3 separate regions of the Homo sapiens genome follow, and all the other regions are linked to region 1. The links come from fine-mapping of genetic effects on gene expression. Tissue or cell type: whole blood. Region 1 holds a variant in brackets; each other region holds the start of a gene. All regions are shown on one strand. Distances are between the middles of the regions.

What was found. PIP is the estimated chance that this variant, and not a neighbour inherited with it, causes the effect.
Region 2: it holds the start of SLC25A23, and the variant in region 1 is fine-mapped to the expression of SLC25A23 in whole blood (INTERVAL, PIP above 0.99).
Region 3: it holds the start of DENND1C, and the variant in region 1 is fine-mapped to the expression of DENND1C in whole blood (TOPMed, PIP above 0.99).

What each region holds. Positions count from the first base shown.
Region 1 is chr19:6,499,142-6,506,821 of GRCh38, forward strand. TUBB4A (tubulin beta 4A class IVa) reads right to left here and starts at 3,168. Exons shown (of 4, transcript NM_006087.4): 1 at 3,015-3,168; 2 at 2,374-2,482; 3 at 2,146-2,256. The coding sequence starts at 3,071. RefSeq lists silencers at 2,685-2,794, 2,965-3,144, 3,155-3,424, enhancers at 5,552-5,691, 7,653-7,680 and a cis regulatory region at 5,569-6,046. The variant G/A (reference allele first, on the strand shown) is at 3,450.
Region 2 is chr19:6,457,161-6,463,216 of GRCh38, forward strand. SLC25A23 (solute carrier family 25 member 23) reads right to left here and starts at 2,632. Exons shown (of 10, transcript NM_024103.3): 1 at 2,313-2,632; 2 at 1,038-1,164; 3 at 343-430. The coding sequence starts at 2,468. RefSeq lists silencers at 2,384-2,443, 2,494-2,633, 3,144-3,323.
Region 3 is chr19:6,479,285-6,485,340 of GRCh38, forward strand. It overlaps DENND1C (DENN domain containing 1C), which reads right to left and starts at 2,503. Exons shown (of 23, transcript NM_024898.4): 1 at 2,395-2,503; 2 at 703-767; 3 at 575-618; 4 at 385-434. The coding sequence starts at 2,411. RefSeq lists enhancers at 598-1,097, 2,694-2,988.

The sequences.
Region 1 (7,680 bases):
CATGGCGAAACCCCGTCACTATTAAAAATACAAAAAATTAGCTAGGTGTGGTGATGCATGCCTGTAGTCCCAGCTACTCGTGAGGCAGGAGAATCGCTTGAATCTGGGAGGTGGAGGTTGCGTCACTGCACTCCAGCCTGGGCAACGGAGACTCCGTCTCAAAAAAAAAAAAAAGCGTGGACCTAGTAGTCAGACCCTCTCCTCTGGCTCCTGACAGCCCCAGTGGCTTGCAGTGTGACTTTCTGCAAGTGACCTAACGTCTCTGTGCCTCTGTTTTCTCACCTGTAAAATGGAAGTAAGAGGCGAGTTGCGGAAAAGATTCAGAGAGGCAGGACAGGTCCTGCATTTAGCACGTCTTACATGCTGGGAGTATTGGAGGCGGGTGGAGCCAGGGTGGGGACATGCAGCCAGCTGGAGCCAGGAAAGCTTTCCCGGAAGGATTGTCCCAGGGTGTGGACACCCCACTATCTTCACATATGCTGTTGCCTCCGTCTTAAACATCTTTCCTCCCTTCCATGCCCTTTGGCCAGTCCAAATCCTACTCACATTCTAGACTGCAGATAGTAATGAAAACAACGACAAATGCTTATTTACCTCTTTCTCTGTGTCAGGCATTGTTCTAAACTCTACACATATTCATGACTTTAAGCTTCACAATTTTTTTTTTTTTTTGGAGACGAAGTTTCACTCTTGTTGCCCACGCTGGGGTGCAGTGTCATGATCTTGGCTCACCACAACCTCTGCCGTTCAAGCAATTCTCTTGCCTCAGCCTCCCGAGTAGCTGGGATTACAGGCATGTGCCACCATGCCTGGCTAATTTTTTATTTTTAGTAGAGATGGGGTTTCTCCATGTTAGTCAGGCTGGTCTCAAACTCCCGACCTCAGGTGATCCACCCGCCTCGGCCTCCCAAAGTGCTGGGATTACAGGTGTGAGCCACCGTGCCCACCCTGAGCCTCACAATTCTAATAGCATTTTAGAATCCCTGTTTTATTTGATCTTTTTTAGAGATGGGGTCTCACACCATCGCTCAGGCTGGAGTGCAGTGGCACCATCATAGCTCATGGCAGCCTCAACCTCCCAGGCTCAAGTGATTCTCCTACCTTAGCCTCACGAGTAGCTGTGACTACAGGTGCACACCACCTCACTCAGCTAATTAAAATTTTTTTCTTTTTGTAGAGACAGGGTCTCACCATGGTGCCCAGGCTGGTCTCGAACTCCTGACCTCAAGCTCTCTTCCTGACTCAGCCTCCCAAAGTCCTGGGTTTATAGGCATGAACCACCATGCCCAGTGAAATCCCTGTTTTAAAGACGAGGAGGCCGGGCAAGGTGGCTCATGCTTGTAATCCAGCACTTTGGGAGCTGAGTTGGGTGGATCGTTTGAGTCCCGGAGTTTGAGACCAGCATGGGCAACATAGAGAGACCCACCTCTCTACAAAGAAAACTAAAAAATTAGCTGGGTGTGGTGGTGCATGCCTGTAGGTCCAGCTACTTGGGAGACTGAGGCAAGAGGATCACGTGTGCCCAGAGGTGGAGGTGACAGTGAGCCGTGATCATGCCACTGCACTCTAGCCTGGGTGACAGCAGGACAGACAGACCCTGTCTGAAAAAAAAAAAAAAAAGAGGATTTTTGAGGCCCAGAAAGGCTGAGGAGCCCATCCTAAGTTATCCATCTGAATCAACCCCTGGCAGAGCTTTACTTATTTATCTCCTTTGTGGCCTATCACCTTCTACCAGAATGGGAGCTGCACTGGGGCAGAGAGGGAGCTCCGGCTGTTTGATTCTTACCTGGATCTCCAGCTTCTAGAACAGGGCCTGGTATGCAGTGAGTGCTCACTGTTTGTTGAATGCATGAAGTGGCAGAATTGGGATGTGCACCCAGGCAGTCTGGTTCCGGTTCAGACCGTTGAATTAAAATGCCACCTCCTCCAGGAAGACTTCCCTGAATCCTTCTCTGTATCCGCCCTCCTCAGGGCTCTCACAGTGGCCTGAGCATCCCCTCATCACAGCCCTGGATGCAGGGCTGGTGCCTGGTGCCCTGTCCACCCCATCTCTGGTCTGTGGGCCCCGGTGGTGGCTGTTGACTCTGTGGTGTTAGCAGGAATAAGGAGGTTTTCCAGCCTCTGGCTCCCTGCTGGGGGACTCACCAAACACGAAGTTGTCCGGCCGAAAGATCTGACCGAAGGGGCCAGAACGGACAGAGTCCATGGTGCCGGGTTCCAGGTCCACCAGCACCGCTCTGGGGACATAATTTCCTCCTGCAGGGAAACAGATGGAGGGCAGTTCGATGCGTGCCAGGAACCACAGGCGCCCGGTAGCATCCTGTTCCCTCCCAGCTGCCCCTTCCCACCTGGAAGGTGCCTCCTTCGCCCTACCTGTGGCCTCGTTGTAGTACACGTTGATCCTCTCCAGTTGCAGGTCACTGTCCCCATGGTATGTGCCTGTGGGGTCGATGCCATGTTCGTCACTGATAACCTCCCAAAACTAGAGAGAGAGGTGGTCGGAAGAGTTGAGAGAGGGGAAGCCGGTGGCCAAGCCGAGGACTGCCCCCAGCCCCCAACTAGCTCCCTAGCTGCCACCTCTCCCCCAGCAAGGTGAACGGGGGACCTAGAGGCATGGTGTCGGGGCGAGGATGAGGCAGCAAGAAGGAGCGGTGGGGGCGGGGTGCAGCCGAGTCAGCACCCAGCGGGGCCGGCTGGTGCCAGCGCACCCAGGCTGCAGCCCGGGGGAGGCACCGGGGCTCTTTGTGCGTGAGGAGGGGACAGTGGCCCAGCTGTGGGCCCAGCTGTGACAGGCGGACAGAAGGCTGGCTCCCACTCTCCGCAGCCTCTTTGTTCCCAGTCTGGCCCTGCCACCCCCACCCCGCGACCCTTCCCCCAAGGCCCCTGGGGCGCGCTGGCCTCCTGGGGACCTCATTCCTTTCCAAAGACTCCCAGGTTGCGGGGTGCTCCGGGGACCGACCCCGCGGTGCTCCCCGGGGCCGCCACTGCCTCCCCGGGCCCCGTTCCCCGAGCACCTTGGCCCCGATCTGGTTGCCGCACTGGCCGGCCTGCAGGTGCACGATCTCCCGCATGGCGGTGGCGCTGAGGGTGGACGCGGCGGCGGTGGCACGAGCGCGGGGAGCTGCGGCGGCGGCGAGGGTGGAAGATGCGGCGGAGACGGCGGAGCACGGTCCCTGCGCCCCCGGGAGCCGCTATATGAGCGGGCGGGGCACGCGTCACGGCCGGTCACCCTCCCGCTCCGCCCCTTGGTCCCGCCCCGGGATGATGGAGGGGGCTGGGGTGGGGGGAGGTGGTGCAGGGACCTCCCTCCCCAGGGGGCCTCCCAGAGAAGTCCGGGACGCCACGTGCTCCGACCCCTGCCTTGGGGGTGAGGCCCCTTAGGGAGCCACCAGTGCAGTCTCCCCCGTCCCAGCCCCCAGCCAGGCTTGGCCACCCGCAGAAATTGGGCG[G/A]AGGAAGGGAGGGGAGCGCCTGGTAAACAGGCATCTGAGAAGTCCTGCCCCTCCCCCTTAGCCTCCACCCTCCCGCCCCAGGCCTTGCCTCAGTTTCTCGGTCCGCAGCCCCCCTTCTCATTCTATTTAGACCTCATTCGCCAGAATCCTTGCAGTAACCGCGAGCCCTCCCAGTGGGCTGGGGGCTCCGGAGCGGCGATCTGGTTTGCGGGTGGGGGGCGGTAGGTTCCTGGAGGGCTTGTCCTGAAGCTGCATAGTAAAACCACGATTTTCCTCCCATGATTGGGTGCAGATGCTGGTGGGCTCCCCTGGTACACCTCTACTGGGCATTGAGCTCGTCCCAGGTGGGGTCACCCCCAGCCTGGCCTAAGGAGGAGAGTGGAGGAGTAAGACAGCTGGGTTCATATTGGGAGGGGGACAGTGAGTCCCCAGGGCTGCCTCGCTTTCCCAAAATAACACCCCTCCTCTCCAGTATTGTAATTTATCTTTATCTATATCTATACCCTTTTTTTTTTTTTTTTGAGACAGAGTTTCGCTCTTGGCGCCCAGGCTGGAGTGCAATGGCCCAATCTCGGCTCACTACAACCTCAGCCTCCCAGGTCCAAGCGATTCTCCTGCCTCAGCCTCCCGAGTAGCTGGGATTACAGGCATGTGCCACCACGCCCGGCTAATTTTTTTGTATTTTTAGTAGAGACAAAGTTTCTCCATGTTGTTCAGGCTGGTCTCAGACTCCTGACCTCAGGCCATCTGCCCACCTCTGCCTCCCAAAGTGCTGGGATTACAGGCGTGAGCCAACGCGCCCGGCCTATATATATATATTTTCGGACAGGGTCTTGCTCTGTCCCTCAGGCTGTAGTGCAGTGGCATGCTCATAGCTCACTGCAGCCTCAATGTCCTGGGCTCAAGCAATCCTCTCACCTCAGCCTCCCAAGTAGCTGGGACTGCAGGTGCATGCCATCACGCCTGGCTAATTTTCAAGATTTTTTGTAGAGATGGGGTCTCGCTATGTTGTCCAGGCTGCTCTCCAACTCCTGAGCTCAAGAGATCCTCCTGCCTCAGCCTCCCAAAGTGCTGGGATTCCAGGCATGAGCCACTGCGCCCAGCTCAGTATTATAATTTATTACCCACCATCTCCCTTGCCTCTGCATTTCCTGTAGCATTAGGTGTATGACCTTGCCCTGGTGCTCCTCTCTGTGTCTGAATTTCACATTTGCAAGTTGGGGTGGTGAGGAAGGCCCACCCTCCAGGGTCTGATTATGCGATGACCCAGTTAACAAGGTGGCGATAGTCTCCCCTCCTGCAGAGTCAACAATAAATTGTATCTTTCTCGAGTCTAAGTATTATCAGAGGCTGGACTGGACTTCCTGTGCTGCCCCTCATGTGAAGGTCAAGCCTCCTGGGGCTGCTTCCTTGGACAGCCTCCAGTCCCGCCCTCCCAGGAAGTCTCCTCCTCGCCTCCCATCCTTGACTTTCCCACTCAAGGACTTTGGTGTATTGCTGGTGGGAGGTGGGGTAAGCCATCTTGGCCATGTGGTTGGGACCTCACATTTGCCATGGCCACTAATTTTTTTTTTTTTTTTTTTTTTTTGACAGAGTCTTGCTCTGTCACCCAGGCTGGAGTGCAGTGGTGCCATCTCGGCTCACTGCAACCTCTGCCTCCTGGGTTCAAGCCATTCTCCTGGCTCAGCCGCCCCAGTAGCTGAGATTACAGGTACGTACCACCATGACCAGCTAATTTTTGTATTTTTAGTAGAGACGGGCTTTCACCATGTTAGCCAGGCTGGTCTCGAACTCCTGACCTCGTGACCTGCCCACCTTGGCCTCCCAAAGTGCTGGGATTACAGGCGCGAGCCACCGCGCCCAGCAAATTCTTTTTTTTTAATTTCTTGCCCTGTCATCCAGGCTGGGGTGCAGTGGCATGGCCATGGCTCACTGCAGCCTCGAACTCCTGGGCTCAAGTGATTCTCCCACCTCAGCCTCCCGAGTAGCTGGGACTACAGGCATGCACCAATATGCCTGGGTAATTTTTGTATTTTTTTGTGGAGATGGGGGTCTTGCTATGTTGCCCAGGCTGGTCTCCAACGCCTGAGCTCAAGCAATCCTCCCACCTCAGCCTCCCAAAGTGCTGGGTTTACACATGTGAGCCATCGTGCCCTGCCCAATGACCACTAAATTTGACCAGTGGCTCTCAACAGCGTGTGTGTGAGAGTGTGTGTGTGTGTGTGTGTGTGTGTGTGTGTGTGTCGGGGGGGCGGGGGAGCGGTGATATTGCCTTCCCAGGGAACACTTGGCAATATCTGAAGACATTTTTGGTTGTCGTACCCAGATGGGGGCGGGGATGTGTGTGTGAGACTATGTGTGCACTACTGGCATCTAGTGGGTGGAGGCCAGAGATGCTGCTGAAAGCCCTTCAGTGCACAGGACGGCCCCACCCCAGAGAATGATGCAGGCCCAATGTCAACAGGGTTGAGGCTGAGAAATCCTGTGTTAATTATTTTGGGAAAAAATTTGTGTTAGCCCCTTCGCTCACACTAGATGCCAGAATAAATTCCAGAGGGGCTAGACCTTATATGGGTTTGGTGGGGCGATCCCTTAGCTTCTGTGACTTATATACTCTCTCTCCCTCAACTCAGTTAGTATGTGTGTATGTATGTTTTTATCTTTTTAGCAAGCTATTTTTTTTTTTGAGATGGAGTTTCGCTCTTCTTGCCCAGGCTGGAGTGCAGTGGTGCAATCTCTGCTCATCTCAACCTCCGCCTCTTGGGTTCAAGCGATTCTCCTGCCTCGGCCTCCCGAGTAGCTGGGATTACAGGCATGCACTGCCACGCCCGGCTAATTTTGTATTTTTAGTAGAGACAGGGTTTCTCCATGTTGGTCAGGCTGGTCTTGAACTCCCGACCTCAGGTGATTCCCCTCACCTTGGCCTCCCAAAGTGCTGAGATTACAGGCGTGAGCCACTGCACCCGGCCGCCATTTTTTTTTTTTTTTTTGAGACAGTTTCACCCTGTTGCACAGGCTGGAGTACAGTGGTGTGATCATATCTCACTGCAGCCTTGACCTCCCAGGCTCTGGTGATCCTCCCACGTCAGCCTCCTGAGTAGCTGGGACTACAGGTGGGCACCACCAGGCCTGGCTAATTTTTGCATTTTTTGTAGAGACAGGGTCTCGCTATGTTGCCCAGGCTGGTCTCAAACTCCTGGGCTCAAGTGGTCCTCCTTCCTGTCAGGCCTCTGAGCCCAAGCTAAGCCATTGTAACCCCTATGACCTGCTCGTATACATCCAGATGGCCTGAAGCAACTGAAGATCCACAAAAAAAGTGAAAATAGCCTTAACTGATGACATTCCACCATTGTGATTTGTTGCGGCCCCACCCTAACTGATCAATGTACTTTGTAATCTCCCCCACCCTTAAGAAGGTTCTTTGTAATTCTCCCCACTCTCAAGAATGTACTTTGTGAGATCCACCCCTGCCCCCAACACATTGCTCCTAACTCCACCGCCTCTCCCAAAACCTATAAGAACCAATGATAATCCCACCACCCTTTGCTGACTCCTTTTTCCCACTCAGCCCGCCTGCACCCAGGTGAAATAAACAGCCTTGTTGCTCACACAAAGCCTGTTTGGTGGCCTCTTCACACGGACACGTGAGACACTGCCTTGGCCTTCCAAGGTGCTGGGATTATAGGTGTGAGCCACTGCGCCTGGCCAGCAAATGATTTTTTATTTACTCGCATAGTATAGCTCCAATAGGAAAGTAATTTGGCTTAGCACTCTTTACAGCTCCAGCACAATCTTGAAGGCATCCTAAGGTTTCTCTGACCCACACCTAACAGTGGCTTTAAAAAACGGCCGGCCGCGGTGGCTCACGCCTGTAATCCCAGCACTTTGGGAGGCCGAGTTGGGCAGATCACGAGGTCAGGAGATCGAGACCATCCTGGCTAACACGGTGAAACCCCATCTCTACTAAAAATACAAAAAAAAAAAAATTAGCTGGGTGTGGTGGTGGGCGCCTGTAGTCCCAGCTACTCAGGAGGCTGAGGCAGGAGAATGGCGTGAACCCAGGAGGCGGAGCTTGCAGTGAGCCGAGATTGCGCCACTGCACTCCAGCCTGGGCGACAGAGTGAGACACCATCTCAAAAAAAAAAAAAAAACAAAAACCCTCCAAAACCCCTCCCCACCTATACTTCTTTTTTTTTTGGAGACGGAGTTTTGCTCTTGTCGTCCAGGCTGG
Region 2 (6,056 bases), 43 kb before region 1:
GTTTAAGGGATTCCCGTGCCTCAGCCTCCCCAAGTAGCTGGAATTACAGGCATGCACCACCACGCCTGGCCAATGTTTGTATTTTTAGTAGAGATGGGGTTTTACCATGTTGGCCAGGCTGGTCCCCAACTCCTGACCTCAGGTGATCCACCTGCCTCAGCCTCCCAAAGTGCTGGGGTTACAGATGTGAGCCACTGCGCCTGGCCAGATCTGTCTGACTTCAAAGCCCCAACCTCTCAGCTGTATCCTCCTTGGGACTGGGTCTGGAGCCCAGAAGACAGAGATGGCCAAGGGGTCACTGTGTCCTGAGTTACTTTGGATTCCAGACCCCCAGCGACTCACCTGTGCAAAATTTTCTCAGCCTGCTCCAGCGAGATGGAAATGCCCAGAGCTCGGAAACTCTGTTGGATCTCAGAGACATCAATGTGACCTGGGGAGGGGGCCGGAGGTGGGGAAGGATGTGCGTGTGAGGACACCTGGGGAACCCCAGGACCAAGGATCAGAACAGCTTGGAATGGAGGTGGTCTAGCAAGATCAGGGGCTCCAGAAACCTAGGAGGAGGTTTGCAGTAGGGCTGTGGGGGGACCCCTGACTCACTGGGGTCAGAGAGGTGGAACTGGGAAATACTGGGGGGGCTTCTCTGTTCTGTAAATGAATGAAGGAATCCAGGGGTAATTGTAGGGGTCTCTATGCCATGGGGGATTGAGAGGCAATATCCACAACCCAGATGCTGCTATGAGGGGATCTCTGTCCCACAGGGGACCCAGGAACAGCATAGGGTATCTTTGCCCCATAGAAAAATCTAAGGGTAATTATCGGGGTTCTGCCCCAGTAGGGAAAGGAGGTGGGATGGGCTGGCTGGGCCTCGAACCACCTAGCTAGGGGGTGAGGAGTGCTCCTGAAATAGCCTATGAGTCATCGGGGAGAAGCGGCCCTCCCCCTCTCCTCCTAGCGCTGCCAGTTCTAACCCCACTGATGTCTCTAGGGCCCCCACAGCCCTATCCCTTGGGGCCTGCAGGCAGGTCGCCCGACCTTACCATCCTGGTTCCGGTCAAGACTGTGAAACATGAGCAGCAGACGCTGTTCCCGCTCCTGCAGATAGCGGGAAAATTCCTCCAGGTCGAGCCCGCCATCTGGGTCAGCATCACCCTCAGAGGAGATACCCTGACAGAGGGAAAGGGGATAGAGGTGGCTCCAGGAACCTGCTCCTGATCTGGAGGGGACGCATGTCACCTTATGCCTTAGGAACCCAGAGCCCCCAGCGCCTTGAGGAAGGGGATAGAAGACGTCACCCCACTTCTCCCTCAGTCAGCTAACTTCTCAGCCAGATCCCTACAGCCACCACAGGTCTGTGCGGTGGGTGTGAGTGGTCTAGTTTTCCTGGTGAGCAAACTGAGGCTCTGCAAGGTCAAGTCACCAGTTCAAGGTCACAGAACCAGGAAATGGTAACCTCAGTTCTCATCTGTAAAGCCTGTCCTTCCAGCTGTCTCTTGTTTTTAGTTTTTGTTATTTTTTTAGGTATCTCATTCCTGTTGAACCCAGCTGCCTCTTAAAAAACCCTGTCCACATGGGGGACCCAGGGGTTCCCTTTGGAGGAAGCCCTGGGCGATGTGGGGCAGGAGAGAACCAAGCGGAGTGGCTGAGGCCTTGGTTTTTCCCATTTGGGAAGTGGGAGGTTGGACTGCTCTCAGGGTTGCTGTGGTTCTCTTAGAGCGATCTGGGGCTACAGGTGTGGGAAGGACCTGCAAAGTGGAGGTGGGGGCAGCGGGAGGAAAGTCTTGTTATAGGTGCATTCCCAGCTGCGGGTGACCGCAGACAGGATTGGGTCCCTGGCTGGGGCAGCCCGGGACAGTGAGCCAGGCCCGTGAACGGCCCATGAAAGGGCAGGCCAGGGAATGTAAACACAGGGATCGGGGCAGCTGCAGGCCAGGGCAGTAGGTGCCCAGAGGATGGAGGGTGTGTCTCCTGGAGGTGAGAGCAGGGCACGTCATGGGCTGTGCAGTCTGGAGGAGGGTGTGTCCCGGGCAGTGGGCAGGAAAGCGCCCCCATCTCTTCCCAGGCAGACGCCCCCTGCCCCGCAGCAGGGGGATCGGGTGTTGGCCGCGGAACTGCAGGCTTGGGGCCTCGGCGTCCCTGTCTTGAGCGATCCCGTTAGGCCAAACACGAGTGGGTAGGGGGAACGAGACAGAGACACAGGTTCTGGAGTCCAGCCACAGGTAGTCCCTGGTGGCTCCGGCCGCCCAGTTCAGGGGCTTGGGTAACCGGGAGCGGGCGGGGCCGGGAGGGGAGGAGGTCCCTGGGGGTGGGGGTACCTGTTGGGCGCCGGGGTCTGGGTTGCCCCCGCCCAGCCTGGCCAGCCCCTGGCGCAACTCGTGCACGTCCACGCGGCCATCCTTGTTACTGTCCAGCTCCTCGAACAGGCGACCCCAGCGCTGCCGCCGCTCCGCGTCGCCCGGGCTCCCCCGCATGGCGCCCGCCCGGGGGGGAGGGGAGGCCCGGCAGCGGCGGCCTCAGTGGGGGCTTCGCGGCTCCCCCTCCCCCCCCGGGACCCCGCAGGGTCAGCTCCCGCGGCCGCCGGCTCCGCAGCCTCCGCGCAGTCCGCTCGGCTCTGGCACTTGCGGGAGGTGGTGACGGCTAGCCGTCGCCGCCCGCGCCAGAACTTGCGTCTCCTCCCCCGACCTGCATTGGGGGGAGGGGACCGAGGGCGGAGCTGGGGGCGTGGGGAGGGAATGTCTGGGATGGTCTGGTATTGCACAGCCGAGGAACACCAGAGTTCCTTCTGGGAAGACGGGCTAGGGAGCTCAGTGGTCTCAGGTCTGGTTTCAGAGTTCCGCCTCTGCGTGCCTCAGTTTACCCTTTCCCCCTTTGCCCAAGGGGGCAAGGTAGAGCGCTGTCGGGGATTGGGTTTCATAATCCCCTTCCACTTGACCTCCCCGCCACACCCACTAATCTTCAGGAACTCAAGTTCTCGCTTTTCCCAGACGCACGCAAGAACCGTGCACCATCTCGCTCGCTCTCTGCCCGCCCGCGCCTTACACCTTCCCCGCTCGGCCGCAGAAACAGAAGATCCAGGAGCGATGCTCTCCCACTGTCCCTTCTTCCCGCCCGCGCGCTTCCTTTCTCGGTTCCCACTCTGACTGGGAAACAGAAAATCAACGCGCGGCGCGGCTGCAAAGTCGGTTTCCTATTGGTCAGCGCCTCCTGGGCTGAGCCCGCCCGCCCCGCCTCTTCTCCCACCTAGGCGGGGCCTCCCCGCAGACCCCCGACTGCCTCCAGCCCGCAGTCCCACCGCCTGCCAGGAGATCTTAAAGGGGCCGCGGCCGCAATCAGACGCTGAGCGGCGTGGGGAGGGGGTGGCTCAGTGACCCGGGCGCGGGGTTGAGGATCCCAGTGGTCGAGCGCTGGAGGCAGGGCCCCAGCCTGTCGCACTCGCTGCACCTGCGGAATGTCCCTACTGCTAGTTTCGGGCGCAGTTTCTCGATCCACCATTAGGGGGAAGGGAGCCCAGACCACTTGACAGCGAATACTCGATAACAAATCTCACTTTGATTCAGTGCTTTGCACATGCCAGGGCTTTTACTCACCTCTCGAGTCGTCTTTGCCAAAACCCTATAAGGTAGGTGGTACTGGCGTTCGCACTTTGCAGATAAGGAAGCGGAGGTTAAGTCATTCTCCCCAGTCCTGATGACCACTAAGGGGCAAAACAGGGTTTAAAGAGATCTGGGATCCTTAACCATCACTCTATACCCTAGAAAGAATTAATTATCTTTTTTTTTTTTTTTTTTTTGAAACGGAGTTTCGCTGTTGTTGCTCAGGCTGGAGTGCAATGGCGCGATCTCGGCTCACTGCAACCTCCGCCTCCCGGATTCAAACGATTCTTTTGCCTCAGCCTCCCGAGTAGCTGGGATTACAGGCGCCCGCCACCAAACCCAGCTAATTTTTGTATTTTTAGTGGAGACGGGGTTTCACCATGTTGGCCAGGCTGGTCTCGAACTCCTGACCTCGTGATCCGCCCGCCTCAGCCTCCCAAAGTGCTGGGATTATAGGCGTGAGCCATCGCACGCAGCAGTGAGTTTTTTTTTTTTTTTTTTTTTTTTTTTTTTTTTTTTTTTTTTTTTTTTGAGATGGAGTTTCGCTCTTATTGCCCAGGCTGGAGTGCAATGGCACGATCTCAGCTCACCACAACCTCCGCCTCCCGGGTTCAAGCAATGCTCCCGCCTCAGCCTCCCAAGTAGCTGAGATTACAGGCGCACACCACCACGCCCGGCTAATTTTTGTATTTTTAGTAGAGACGGGGTTTCACCATGTTGGTTAGGCTGGTCTCAAACTCCTGACCTCGTGATCCGCCCGCCTCGGCCTCCCAAAGTGCTGGGATTACAGGCATGAGCCACCATGCCCGACCGCAGCCGTGAGTTTTGTATTTTTATTAGAGACGGGGGGGGGGGGTTTCACCTGTGGACCAGGCTGGTCTCGAACACCTGACCTCAGATTATCCTCCCGCTTCAGCCTCCCAAAGTGCTGGGATTACAGGCGTGAGTCACCGCGCCCGGCCTGGCCTAATTATTCTTTAATCATCACTTGTCACCCAAGGGTCCTCAGGAGGGGGTCTTGTTATTATCATCATCCTTTATCCAAAGATACAGCATTGGCCGGTCTCGGTGGCTTAGGCCTCTAATTCTAGCAATTTGAGAGGCCGAGATGGGAGGATCGCTTGGGGTCAGGAGTTTGAGACCGGCCTGGGCAATATAGCAAGACACCCAACTCTACAAATAATAATAATAATTATTATTATTTTTTTTAAAAAGGAAAGAAAACAAAGATACAGTCGTGAGGGCATATTTAGTTCACGCCCAGCCTCTGCCTAGACAGGTGTGCTGGAACAGGTGTGCCCCAGACAAATGAGTCTCTTCTAAGAGGCTCCCCAGCAGAGGTTTTCATTTACAGTTGTTCCTTGCAGGTGCCATACAGCATGGAGTGATACAGAGGTTTTTTTCCATGTAAGTGCCCCTAAATAGGTGTTTTCTCACAGATACATTCTTGACAGGTGGGCCTCAGTGTATGTGAGCCCCTGCCCTGATGGTTTTACCCACAGATGTGTGTCAATGTGAGTGTGCCCCGTGCAGATGTTCCAAGTTCTTCCCCTCACTTGAGCTCAATTCCATACAGGTGTTCCTCCTACAAGGTGCTTTCTCTTACCTCACAGGTATGTTTCTGAGCAGGTTTCCCTCCACCCATGAATGCATTCTACAGTCTCCCGCCCCGTAGGTGTGTTTCAGTTAAGTATACACCCATCTGGGTATGTTTCCATACAACCGAGTCCCATACAGGTTTACGTAAATGCAGGTGTGTCTCATACAGGTATTTACAAGACACTGACACCCAGGAATTCCCCCAATGCAAGTGCCGTACATTTCATAGGTGAGCCATGCAGATATGTTCCTAAAACAGGTCTATTCCACATCAGAGTGCCTTAGTTAGCTGTTTGTGATGATAATGCAGGCGTGTTCTATAGAGATACTGTCCACCCTGGTGGTATGTATCCATTTGGTTATATTTCTTTTCTTTTTTTGACAGTCTTGCTCTGTCACCCAGGCTAGAGTGCAGTGGCGTGATCTCGGCTCACTGCAACCTCCGCCTCCAGGGTTCAAGCGATTCTCCTGCCTCAGCCTCCCAAGTAGCTAGGATTACAGGCGCCCACCACTACGCTAGCTAATTTTTGATTATTTTTTAGTAGAGACGGGGATTTCACCATCTTGGCTAGGCTGGTCTCGAACTCGTGACCTCGTGATCCACCTGCCTCGGCCTCCCAAAGTGCTAGGATTACAGGCGTGGGCCACCATGCCCAGCCTTGGCTATATTTCGTATAGCTGTGATTCAATGCAGATTTTTTTTTTTTTTTATGAGATGGAGTTTCACTCTTGTCACCCAGGGTGGAGTGCAATGGTGCAATCTCGGCTCACTGCAATCTCTGTCTCCTGAGTTCAAGCAATTCTCCTGCCTCAGCGCCCCCCGAGTAGCTGAGATTACAGGCACCTGCCACCACACCCGGCTAATTT
Region 3 (6,056 bases), 21 kb before region 1:
CTGGGTCCTTGAATCCCTAAGTCCCTGGGTTCCTCAGTCCCTGAGTCCCTGAGTCCCTGAGTCCCTGGTCCCTGAGTTTCTGAGTCTCTGGGTTCCGAAGTCCCTGAATCCTTGTGTCCCTGAGTCCTTGAGTCTCTGAGTCCCTGGGTCCCTGGGTCCCTGGGTTCCTGAGTCCCTAGATCTCTGGGTCCCTGAGTGTCTGAGTCCCTGGATGCTAATGTATATAGGTCCCTAGTTCTCAGGGCCCCTGAGTGTCTGAGTCTCTGAGTCTCAGGGTCCTCGAGTGTATGGGTTTCCAGATGTCTGAGTCTCTAGGTGTTGAGTCCTTGGGGCCCCTGAGAGATCTGAGTCCCTGAGTCCTTGGATCTCCCCGCCCTTCCGTACCTTTCCACATCAAAAGGGAAGCAGAATTTAGGCACCATCTGCATAGCTTCCTGGAGGTGAAGAAAAGCGCAGACTGCTTGGCCACTGAGGTCGGGCACCACCTCCCTGGGCTCCAGGTCCAAGAAACCAAGTCCCCTCCCCCTGGGAGACTGGCCCTCGCCCTGGGGGAGCAAGGAGCCAGCCTGAATACCTGGTCCCTGAAGTCTGGAGGGAACTGCCGCAGGATGGGGGGATCTGTAGAAGAGAGCACGCCTCTAAGTTCAGCGACCCAGGCCCACCCTCCCCTCCCACTCCCTCACTCCCAGGCTCCCAACTCACCCTCCTGCAGGGAGGCAGGGCAGGCCGCTTCGAAGAACCAATCAAACACAGCAGGGGAGCCCCCTCTGTGGGATGCAGAAGGGGTCCAGAGACTTGCTTCTATGCATGTGTGGTTGTGTCTGCCACTTTGCACACAAGTGTGGTTGTGTGTGCATGTGCCACAAGGTGCGTCGGCATGTGCATGACTCTGGGGGTTTGTGGCTGTGAGTGTGTGGTTGTGTGAGGCTGTGTGTGCAGCAGTGTTAATTGAACACACAAGTACAGGATGGAGTGAGAAAGTGTGACTGTGTGTGTGTGGCTGTGTATGATTGTGTGTGGCTGAGTGCATGGCTTTTGTGAGCAGGCAGTGTGTGTGTGATCCTGTCTGCTGTCTGCCTGAAAAGATGAGACTGTCTCCTATATCTGTGGCATGAGACTGCACAGATATGAAGGACAGCCCGTGCAGTCCCAAGCTAAGTGAATTACATCTCTCTCTCTCTATATATATATCCATCTATCTGTCTGTCTGTCTGTCTCTGTCTATCCATCCATCCATCCATCCACCCACCCACCCACCTATCCATCCACCCACCCACCTATCTATCTATCTATCTATCTATCTATCTATCTATCTATCTATCTATCTATCTATTTTTTTGAGATGGAGTTTTGCTTTGTCACCCAGGCTGGAGTACAGTGGCACGATCTTGGCTCACTGCAACCTCCACCCCACAGGTTCAAGCGATTCTCCTGCCTCAGCCTCCCTGTAGCTGGGATTACAGGTGCCCGCCACCACGCCCAGCTAATTTTCATATTTTTAGTAGAGACAGGGTTTCACATACTGGCCAGGCTGTTCTCAAACTCCTGACCTCAGGTGATCTGCCCGCCTCAGCCTCCCAAATTGCTGGGATTACAGGCTTGAGTCACTGCATCTAGCCATGCCATCTATATTTTCTTGTATAGATGTGAGTGTGTGTGCCCGAGCAAGTGAATGACATCTATATTTTCCTGTACAGCTGTGAGTGTCACTGGGTAACCGCGTGGGATCCTTGTGGGCTGGCTGTGTGTCTCTGTGTGTGAGACCCCATAGAACCCTCGTGGCTGGTCCCACATGTCTCATCAGAGAAAGGAGGGCAGGATACCTAGGTACTTACTGTAAGCCCTGCAATCTCTGCTTTCCTCCTCTGCCCCCATATCAAGCAGAAGAGGCAGCCTTGGGCTCAAGGAGAGAGACAGGGAGATCTAGAGGGAGATCAGCTGCACACACACTGTCCCGCCCAGTTGCACACACAGTCCCCACCATGGGTACCCCAGCACTTCACCCTCACGCCGACACAAGTCACACACGATCACCCACTCATACCAACACCCAGCCTCCCCTCTGCCCTGATCATCCGCCCTGTGGACCCCCTGAAGCCATCACTCAGACATACCAAGGACAAAGCTCAGAGGGGTACATGCATTCACAGAGCTATAGACATAATCACAGGAGCTGGATAGAGAGAGAGAGAGAGAGAGAGAGGAGGGGACCGAGAGTGGCCTGTCCCAGAGTGAAGGTCATAGCGGAGGCCCATGGAGTATCTGATTCCAGCCACCTGCCCTGGCAGGTCACTGCACCTCCCGGGCCTGCTCCAGCCCCAGCTCCCCTCTGCCCCGGCTCAGGCCTGGCCCGGGAATCTTGTACCAGAGAATGAGGGATGGGGTGGCTCTTACTCAGCTCTGGATTCCATGGTCCCTGCAGGGCCAGCCCAGCGGGGCCCTCTCCCCAGGGGTCCTGGGGGCCTGTGTATGCTGGGCCCCAAGCCGGCTCAGCTTCCTGTGTGGCTGAGAGAGGAAGTTTAACGGGTGACGTCCCCGGACAGAGGCCCTGCCCCCACCCCCGTGAGAAACCCAGGCATCCTGCCTGCTAATTATGTTGGGGATGGGTGGGCAATAAGTGGTCAGCCTGGGAAGGCAGACCCCCAGCTCCGTCCCCGCCAGGCTGGACTGTGTCTGGTTCCCCCCATCGTGCCTGGGCCCTCATCTCTCCTTCCCCGCTCCGCAGCAGCCAAGATTCACAGTCTGTCTATTAATGAAATGCCTCCCCGTCTCTTTCCCTTGGTCCATTTGGCCTGGACGGTCACTGGTGGACCACCAGAGGGAGCCACCTGTAAAGTGGACGGTGGGGGGGCCAGGGATGGGGACAAAGAGCACGAAGTACAGGCACAGGGACGGACAGACAGACACAGACACAGACAGTTACACGCTCAGGAAGTCATCAGCACAGACAAACCGAGTGCAGAAGAGCCAGAGACGACAGACATGGAGAGATAGGGAGTCCTACAGCTGGATCATAGTCCCAGGCCGGGCACAGTGGCTCACGCCTATAATCCCAGCACTTTGAGAGGCCAAGGTGGGAGGACCGCTTGAGCCCAGGAGTTCGAGACCAGCCTGGGAAACATGGCGAAACCCTGTGTCTATAAAAGCTACAAAAATTATAGCTGGCGGTGGTGGCACGCACCTATAGTCCCAGCTTACCCAGGAGGCTGAGTCAGGAGGATCGCCTGAGCCTGGGGAGTTTGAGGCCATAGTGAACCAAGATTGCACTACTGTACTCCAGCCTGAGCAACAAAGTGAGATCCTGTCTCAAAAAAAAAAAAAAACAACTTAGTCACAGTTACACACCCATTGTGCGCAGAAAGACAAGGTAAGCGGATCACTTGAGGTCAGGAGTTTGCAACCAGCCTGGCCAACATGGTGAAACCCTGTCTCTAATTAAAAAAAAATACAGGCCAGGTGCGGTGGCTCACATCTGTAATCCCAGCACTTTGGGAGGCTGAGGCAGGTGGATCACGAGGTCAGGAGTTCGAGACCAGCCTGGCCAAGATGGTGAAACCCAGTCTCTACTAAAAATACAAAGATTAGCCAGGCACGGTGGTGGGCATCTGTAATCCCAGTTACTCAGGAGGCTGAGGCAGAATTATTTGAACCTGGGAGGCGGAGTTTGCAGTGAGCCGATATCGCGCCGCTGTACTCTAGCCTGGGCGACAGAGCAGGACTCTGTCTCAAAAAATCAAAAACAAACAAACAAACAAAAAATTAGCTGGGCATGGTGGCATGTGCCTGTAATCCCAGCTGCTTGGGAGGCTGAAGCAGGAGAATCACTTGAATCCGGGAGGCAGAGGTTGCAGTGAGCCGAGATCGTGCCACTGCACTCCAGCCTGGGTGAAAGAGTGAGACTCCATCTCAAAAACAAAAACAAAAACAAAGCAAACAAACAAACAAACAAATGCAGAGACAGACAGAGACACAATAAACAGTTACACAGAGACCACAGCCATTGATACAAACAGAATAACAGAGAAATAGACCCAGATAGATGGAAACACAGCACAGACATAGCTCAAGTAATAACCAGATATAGTTATAGCCAAGACCCGGCCACATGCAGAGAGAGACACAGCTGGACTCACATGACAGCCAGATACTCATGACAGCCCGACACACTCAAGCCGTGCTGCAGACTATGAAAGACACAGGGGCTGGAGGCAGTGGCTCAGTAATCCCAGCACCTTGGGAGGCTGAGGTAGGATTGTTTGAGGCCAGGAGTTAAAGATCAGCCTGAGCAATATAACAAGACCCCATCTTTACAAAAATTAAAACTTTAGCCAGGTGCAGTAGTCCCAGCTATTCTGTAGGCTGAGGCGGGAGGATCCCTTGAGCCCAGGTGGTGGGGGTTGTAGTGAGCTGTGATCGTGCCATTGCACTCCAGCCTGGGCAACGGTGTAAGACCCTATCTCCAAACAAACACAGGAACAAACAAAAACAACAAAAAAGACACAGGCACACAGGTGGACAGACGTAGTCATGTTGAGACAGGATATGTGAACATATCTGCAGGCACAAAAACAGAACATGATATAGTCAGGGTCACACCTACACATGAAATCCTGCCAACAGACTCAGACCACTGTGTGGTGTGAAAACACCTCGTGGCCGGGTGCGGTGGCTCACACCTGTAATCCCAGCACTTTGGGAGGCCGAGGTGGGCGGGTCACCTGAGGTCGGGAGTTTGAGACCAGCATGGGCAACTTGGAGAAACCCCGTCTCTACTAAAGATACAAAATTAGCCGGGTGTGGTGGTGACACATACTTGTAATCCTAGCTACTCAGGGGGCTGAGGCAGGAGAATTGCTTGAACATGGGAGGCGGAGGCTGTGGTGAGCCAAGATCGTGCCATTGCACTCCAGCCTGGGCATCAAGAGCAAAACTCCATCAAAAAAAAAAAAAAGAAGAAGAAGAAGAAGACACCTCGTACCCACAGTCACTGGACACATACAGAGTCAGAATCCCGTCAGCCACATCCTCACACAGTCTGATGGACATGTGCTATTGTCCGAATATGTGTCCCTCCAAAATTCGTATGTTGAAACCTAAAGCCCCAAGGCAGTAGTAAGAGGAGCCGAGATTGCGCCATTGCACTCCAGCCTGGGCAACAAGAGTGAAACTCCGTCTCAAAAAAAAAAAAAAAAAATAGGTGAGGCCTCTGGGAGGTGATGAGGTCAAGAGGTATCCACCCTCAACAGTGGGATTAATGCCTTTATAAAAGAGGCTTGAGGCCCAGTGCGGTGGCTCTGGCAGGGTGCAGTGGTTCACACCTGTAATCCTAGCACTCTGGGAGGCTGAGGGGGGTGGATTGCTTGAGGCAGAAGTTTGAGACCAGCCTGGGCAGCATGGTGAAACCCCGTCTCTACAAAAAATACAGAAATTAGCTGGGCATGGTGGTGTGCACCTGTAGTCCCAGCTACTTGGGAGGCTGAGTGGGAGGATTGTTTGAACCCAGGAGGCAGAGGTTGCAGTGAGTGAAGATTGCACCACTGCACTGCAGCATGGGCAGCAGAGAGAGACTCTGTCTCGGGAAAGTAAAAAATAAAAAAATAAAAATAAATAAATAAATAAATAAAAAGAGGTTTGAGCTAGGTGTGGTGATAGCGCCTGTAGTCCCGGCTACTTGGGAGGCTAAGGCGGGAGGATCACTTGAGCCCAGGAGTTCAAGCCTACAGTGAACTTTGATTGCACCACTGCATTCCAGCGAGTGACAGAGCAAGACTCTATGTTAAAAAAAAAAAAAATTAAGGCTGCTATGACAAAATATCTGCAACCTCTGCCTCCCAGGTTCAAGTGATTCTCCTGACTCAGCTTCCCAAGTAGCTGGGACTACAGATCTGTACCACCATGCGTGGCTATGTAGCTAGCTACTTGGGAGGCTGAGGCAGGAGAATCGCTTGAACCTGGGAGTTGTAGTGAGCCAAGATCGTGCTATTGTACTCCAGCCTGGGTGATAAGAGCGAAACTCCATCCCCCTACCCAAAAAAAAAGAGAGATGGGGTCACACT